Homo sapiens: one gene and its partner. The protein of the gene in region 2 purifies or fractionates together with the protein of the main gene of each other region. This does not show direct contact. Each region holds a gene or a part of one and is shown on either strand. Other genes may lie near its edges.

Region 1 (3,820 bases), on a different chromosome or scaffold from region 2:
TTAAATGCTGATGTTCCAGAGTTACTAGGTGCTACCTTCCGGAACCCCCAGGCACAGATGACACGAACGGGTCCAATGTTAGCATTTGTGTGAAATGCAGATCCTGGCTGGAGCCCAGGCCCCTAGAACAGTACCTAGCATACAGTCGGTGCTCAAGAAGTGCTGCTTCTATTATTGCCAAATACCTAGAACAGTACCTAGCATACAGTCGGTGCTCAAGAAGTGCTGCTTCTATTATTGCCAAATACCATAATTATCGCAAGCTTATACTTAAGGCAATAGGTATACCCATAAAGTTATCAACTACATTAGCCGAATAATCATTTAATGAAAACTAAAAGCTCAATCAAAATGTCCCATTTGTCCACCAGCTTTACCTATATAAAAATTCACTAGGTAAGAAATACAATCATAGGACTGAAAGCAAAAGAAAACAGTTGAGAATCATATCACTCCTGGAACACATTCTAGAATAAAATGCAATGATGTACCCCTGACACTCTAGTCAGTACTCCTAAGTACCCATGCACACAGAGTGGTCCTGTGTGTCTGGAAGATCATCTGAAACTTTTGAGTCAAGATATTCTGGGCCCCAAAATGATGAAAGTATGTTCCTACTAAAACTGATCGGCATTTCATAGAGGAAGTGGATAATGTAAGCCAACAGACTAAAGTCGCTTAGAAGGCAATTAGTTCTGCTTCTGGCCAAGAAATAAAGCAGAAAAGTTTAAATATAAACAATAGCATAAGGTTAATTTATGCATCTTTAATGCTGGCATTTCATTAAACACATGATGAGAAAGAGAGTCCTCGACATTCTCTCCTACCCCTCAGAGAGCCTACCTGGCTTTACATTGCCCTGTCCTCTGTGGTACCACGGGAAGGGAAGTCGATTAAACTCTCATCCCAAGGTCAGGAACAGGAGACCTGGCCCTTGGCACATGCTTGACTGGGGCTCTGCCGGGGCCTGAGACAGACAGTCAGGAAAACTCCTGGATGCTGGCCATGCTGATGACACTTGCCCCTCCTACAGAGCACATAGCCGACAGTTCCCCAGGCTCACCTGCAGACTGGGCCCTGGGCCTGACAGCATTGCTCCCAGAAACAGACACTGCATCTACCAACAGCCTGTCCTGGACCAACGTTCCACAGCCATGTTGATTTACCTGCATGTCCCACTATACCAGAGGGCATTTTCATGAGGATGTGAAAATTCAGACCCAAGCCCAAGGACACACTCAGTGAGAACATGAATGGGATATCCTGTGCCCAGGCCTCCACCTTCTCTGCACAGTTCATTGGCTCCTGCACCACCCTGAGATGGGCAGGGCAGGCTTCACAAACCCTGTGTCAGAGATAAGAACTGAGAGAATGACGGCTTAAATCTTGGAGTCACACAGCAGCACAGCCAGTGTGGCAACCTCGGCCTCTTGGTCTGTGAGCAATTTCTGCTATAACATGCAGGTGACCAAATCTGTCACATAAAATATCATCAGCACAACAATGACTAATGAAGAAAGCATGAAATAACAGTAAATAAATATCAATAACAATAAAGAGGTTCAAATTACAGCAATAACGCATCCATTTTTTTACTTAATTGATAGAAAAGTAAAAAAAGAAGATCCATTGATTTGGAGGCTTCAGGAAAAGAGGTACTTCTTAGCTGCTGGTGAGCAACTGGCAATGAAGAAGCATTCTGTTCATAGCCATAAAATAGTATTCCAAACCCAAGAATTGATCTCTAGGAAATCATTTTTAAAATAAGGAGATACATGGAAAAAGCTGTTGATAATACCATTAATTTATAATACTGGGAAACTGAGCTTCCCAAACACCTATCCCCAGACAAAATCAGTCATGGCATTCATTCCTTTACAACACTTTACATCTGAGGTCAGGGTGCTCAGCACGCCTAAACCGCAAGCCTAGACCCTGGTGAAATACCTGCTTCATGTAGGCATAGCACATGGTCTCTGCAACACGTTTGCCTTCATCGTAGCAGGCCCGAGGTCCTATTGGATTCACGTGGCCCCAGTAATCCTCACTTTGAGGGTGGACTTCAGGATCTACGATGGGAGAAAAGTGAGACTGTTTTCATCTTTCCTTTTTCCAGTTCATATCAATAATGCATATTTATGATGCAAAAGGGAACTTCGGAAAGACCCATTTAGAGATGGAGAGATGTATTAAAGAGGCAACCTCAGGTTTCCAGTCCATTCTCTTGAGTTCCAGTAGGATATGATATTAAGCAATGACAATATTTTACTTACAGGGGAAAAAAAAAAAGAAAAAGATCAGGTCTCCCAATTTTAAGTCTTCCCTCTCTTCCGTAAATTGTTCTTAACTTTCAGAGTGCTACACAAATTACAATTAAATAGAATCTATGTGAAGAGATATGTGGTTTTGTTTTATATTTATAAAGTTGATAACTGGAGCAAATCATGTATTTATTGAAAAAAAATGAAAAACGCAGCATCTCTGGAACATGATGACTTTGACATGTGCCATCAGCAGAACAAATCTGGGACCCGTGACAAGTCAACGTGGAGGCTCCTGTAGGGCAGGTGGAGGGACGGGGTGCCCCTGGCAAATGGGTGCCTGTTCTTCTAGCCCTCATTTTACACTCCCAATTCCTGTTTCTCTAGCGTATAAATCAATCACACTTTAAGACATACCAGGGGAAGAGACTATTGGAAGAAAACACGTAACAAATTCTTTTATTCACACAAGTATATTTCTGGAATATGAATATACACCTAATTTATTTAGTACACCAAGAATTTTATACATACTTGAGTACAACTATGATATAAAATGTATAAGTCTTTGCCACGAAATCTGGACAAAAAGATGCATTGTTATAAATTCCCATCTTGTTTATCTTACCCCTGAAGTCTGACTTGGGACTCAGTGGGCCTGAGCAGGTGCAGGGAGGTAAACAGACAGGTATCCTGCCACTTGTCTGCTCAGCCGATCCCTCTGGGTCAGCACAGCCTCCGCAGCAATGCAGAAGTGTGCTGCAAAGAAAGGTCTATGTATCTGCTGCTGTGGTTTAAAATTCCCTTTCAAAGAGCAAACTTCTCACTACTCAGTGAGAGAAAAGTTCTAAGGAAAATACTTCCTGAGAGAAAGGAACCATTGACTTAAATTCACAGAATGTACCAGATGATTGATCCCAGACCTTTTTCTGGGGATCTTTAACAAGAGCTGGGCAAGCTACCCTCCAAAAAAGATGGTCATAAATTTGACAAAGGACAAGAAAGAAAAGGCTGGGTACGCCCATCTGTCCCTGGACTGGCACCGTCTGGACTGAAATGCCCAGGATGCCAAGCTTCTAAATAAGTCCCCTCACAAAATCACCGTGGAATAAAACAGGGACAGCTTACATTGTTAATACAAAAGTAAAGACCTAGAGTCAAAAATAATTTCCAATCATCTCCCCTTTCCAGCATTCTGTGAGGCTAAGACACTAAGCAAATACTCCACAAAAGTTTACTTTGGTTATTCAAGGTCAGAGGAGAGCACCTGGTGACTTCCATAAATTACACTCTCCAATTATTTAGGAAGCCTAAGGAACACAGGCTCCTGTCAGACATGCAGATAATAAATGAGATGAGTAGGGGAAGCAGGATGGCTGTGGGAAAGATGTCACTGTTCCCCTCTGGACAGATACCATACCCCATAGGTAGGGAGGGACACACTCTGCTCTTTTATTAATAACTGCCCAGGACTTCAAAAAAGTAGACAATGAACTACCTTTTCATAGAGATTACAAAGAATATCACTGCATTTAGAAGAATTTCTCTGTTGCTATGAT
Region 2 (3,820 bases):
ACAAGAGAAATATTTCTCTTACAAAACATGAGTCTACTCTGTACCAGCACTCTTCTAAAATTTATATTGATATTTTCCCCTTTAAGCTTCTAAAATTCCTCAGATTTGACTGCCTCCAAATAAAATGTCCCACAAAGGATTCAAAAGTTTATTTTGCCATCATCTAAAAAGAAATACAGTCTGGCCGGGAGTGGTGGCTCACGCCTGTAATCCCAGCACTTTGGAAGGCCAAGGCGGGTGGATCACGAGGTCAGGGGTTCGAGAGACCAGCCTGACCAACGTGGTAAAACCCAGTCTCTACTAAAAATACAAAAATTAGCTGGGCGTGGTGGCGGGCACCTGTAATCCCACCTACTCAGGAGGCTAAGGCAGGAGAATTGCTTCAACCTGGGAGGCGGAGGTTGCAGTGAGCCAAGATCACACCACTGCCCTCCAGCCTGGGCGACAGAGCGAGACTCCGTCTCAAAAAAAAAAGAAATACAGTCCTTCTTGCCTGCAGATACAACACCTAGGACAGTAACTAGTATATAGTAGGCAGGGGTGAACTATGAGGCAGCTATTCAGTAAGAAAAACTGCTGAGGCCAACTGCCTAAGCTCAAGTCCTCAAAATAATTTCTCTTAGATTCATCAATCGAAATAAAATCCAAAATGGCTTGAGTCTAAATAAAACATAGAAAAATTGACAAAGATTTCACCATACCTGGTTTGTTGGAATGAATCGCCAACATGGCAGAGAATACCTTGCTAAGTCGAGTTTTAGTAGCCTGTAAAAAAGGAAAATATTTCTACTTCCTGCACAGATAAATCATTGATCTTACTCTCTAAGTAATATGTACCCTAACTTTACCAACTGTAAAATCCAATGGAGCATGACATGCTATTGCTAGGGATATATAAACGAACACAGACCCTCAAAATTTTCTACCTCAATTAAACCACTAAACACTTTAAATATCTTTTTAAAAAGTCAACTGTATTGAACAAACACACGTAAAAATTATATTCTTTTCAATTGAATTGGAAACCATAGTCATTCAGATATCCAATGTTATATTGATGTTCCGCCTTCTTGGGTTCTTTTTTCATGTTAACCCTACACTTCAGGAAAAAACATCTGGCATGAAGCTTAAAGGGCAGATTAACAAAAAGACGGTCAGAGGAAGCAAGACATGCATGGCTTTACTCACCCACTTCTTACAAAAAGCCACATAGGAGAGCCAAAGTTGAACATCGTCCTGCAAGAAAAGCAATGTAGTAAGCTGCCCAAATTTGACCTTTACATATAATACACCTTTGCATTAATTAATTTTGCTAAAAACAAGCAAATTTCAGGTTGGATGCGGTGGCTCACACCTGTAATCCCACCACTTTGTGAAGCCGAAGCGGGCGGATCACTTGAGGTCAGGAGATTGAAACCAGCCTGGCCAACATGGTGAAACCCCACCTAACCTAAAATTACAAAGATTATTGGGAGGCCAAGGCGGATTGATCACTTGAGGTCAGGAGTTCAAAACCAGCCTGTCAAATATGGTGAAACCCCGTCTCTACTAAAAATACAAAAAAATTAGCCGGACTTGGTGGCAGACCCCTGTAATCCCAGCTACTCAGGAAGTTGAGACAGGAGAATCGCTTGAAGCCGGGAGGCCGAGATCGGGCCACTGCACTCCAGCCTGGGCAACATAGGGAAGCTCCAACTCAAAAAAACAAACAAAAAAAATTAGCCAGGTGTGGTGGTATGTGCCTGTAATCCCAGCTACTAGGGAGGCTGAGGCAGAAGAATCACTTGAACCTAGGAGGCGAAGGTTGCAGTGAGCTGCCGAGATTGTGTGCCACTGCACTCTAACCTGGGTGACAGAGCAAGACTCCACCTCAAAAAAAAAAAAAAAAAAAAGCCAGGCACAATGGCTCAGGCCTGTAATCCCAGCACTTTTGGAGGCTGAGGCAGGTGGATCACCTGAGGTCAGGAGTTTGAGACCAGCCTGGCCAAGATGGTGAAACCCTGTCTACTAAAAATACAAAAATTAGCCAGGCGCGGTGGTGCGTGCCTGAAGTCCCAGGTACTGGGGAGGCTGAGGCAGGAAAATTGCTTCAATCTGGGAGGCAGAGGTTGCAGTGAGCCAAGATCACACCACTGCACTCTAGCCTGGGCAACAGAGCAAAACTCCATCCCCCACCAAAAAAAAAAAAAAAAAAAAAGAAGCAGATTTCAGAAAATCCAGTCACCTCTCATCCTATCTGGCTCTTCCTCACAAAGGCCTCCGATCTCTTAACTATGATAATTCAACCTTTCCCCCAACTCCCACTCACAATGCTCCAAAAAAACTTTGTTATCTATCCAGTTGGTTTAATGCAGTTCTTAAAGAATCTCAATCTGGGGTAGCAATATAAAATTTGTCATTACCAAGAATCCAAAATACTTCTCATATAATATACCCAATCCCAAACACTCCCGTAATCCCAGCACTTTGGGAGGCTGAGGTGGGCAGATCACTTGAGCCCAGGAGTTCGAGACCAGCCTAAAAAACATGACGAAACCCTATGTCTACCAAAAATACAAAAATTAGCCAGGCACGGTGGCATGCGCCTGTGATCCCAGCTACTGGGGAGGCTGAGGTGGGAGAATCATTTGAGCCTGGGAGGCAGAGGTTACAGTGAACCGAGATCACCCTACTGTACTCTAGTCTGGGCAACACAGTGAGACCTTATCTCAAAAAAAAAAAAAAAAGAAAAAAAAAAAAATCAAGTTTCTGAGGTATTGCCCCTACATAACCATTTATTTTCTAGCTCTAAGTCTTCAGTGTACTTACAAATATATACAAATATCTCCCAAATTTCCAATCCTTAGTAATGTATCAAATACACTGTTTTCAGCACTGTCCTCATAGAATAACTATAAGGTAATAAGATCAATTTTCTTACTGGTTTGTTAAGTGGCTCAAAAAATGTTTTGAGTAATGATACCATCATTAGAGTAAGTATAAAGATACCCAAGATAAAAATAGAAAACTGCATTTGAATCCCTAATACAATATGTATAATACTTATCTTCACATCTCATAAAGTTAAGGATGCCTTGATCACTCACTTTCCATTTTGCTGAGGCACGCTGGAAAACACCTTGTACCCGGTGTACAATAGAATTCTCAATCTCATCCTTCTTAAATGAATATCCAATGCGCTAAAGGGGGACATAAAAAAACAGAGCCTCAACTTAATCATATTTGTCCAAAACAGCATTCCTACTTGACCACTTAATGGTACTGATGAAGCAAACAAATAATTACAAATATCCATTATAGGCATATCACCACAGTTTTATCAACACTGTCTCCCAAACACAAGTCCTAACTATACAGCCATACTGCTTAGTTCTGTATTTTTCTCCAACTTCTAGAAAATCTTCTACTTACTGTTCTTCTTCTCTGGATCAGCTCCAAAAGATTAATTTCATACTATGAAAGAAAAACATACAAAAAAATGAGAAGCTAGAAAATCTAAAACCTTTTAAATACTGGAAATTTAGTTAAAGTCATAAAACAAAAATCGAGAATATAAAATAAAAAATAATGTGCTATCACATAATTTACAATAAATGTCTAGAACTCACTTAAAATTCACTTAGCTATAAAACTTAAACAGAATTAACAAGCTTATAATTACATGCTTCACTTAAAAATTATTCCATGAAATATTTCAAGCATATAAAACACCCCATGCAGCTACAATGCAGCTACACCAAACCTACATTGCACTACATTTGCTTCAAATCTTTTTTAGAAATAAAACAGTTCGTATAAAAATGAAGCTACCTATGTACCT

What was found.
Region 1: the proteins of UTP6 (region 2) and UXS1 purify together in Homo sapiens (co-immunoprecipitation; one large-scale study listed by IntAct). This does not show direct contact.

The regions. Positions count from the first base shown.
Region 1 is NC_000002.12:106,121,023-106,124,842, forward strand, and holds part of UXS1 (UDP-glucuronic acid decarboxylase 1), read right to left. Parts: intron 2,070-3,820; coding exon 1,948-2,069; intron 1-1,947. UniProt on the Homo sapiens protein: Catalyzes the NAD-dependent decarboxylation of UDP-glucuronic acid to UDP-xylose. Necessary for the biosynthesis of the core tetrasaccharide in glycosaminoglycan biosynthesis.
Region 2 is NC_000017.11:31,891,559-31,895,378, forward strand, and holds part of UTP6 (U3 small nucleolar RNA-associated protein 6 homolog), read right to left. Parts: intron 3,454-3,820; coding exon 3,412-3,453; intron 3,180-3,411; coding exon 3,087-3,179; intron 1,237-3,086; coding exon 1,189-1,236; intron 766-1,188; coding exon 702-765; intron 1-701. UniProt on the Homo sapiens protein: Part of the small subunit (SSU) processome, first precursor of the small eukaryotic ribosomal subunit.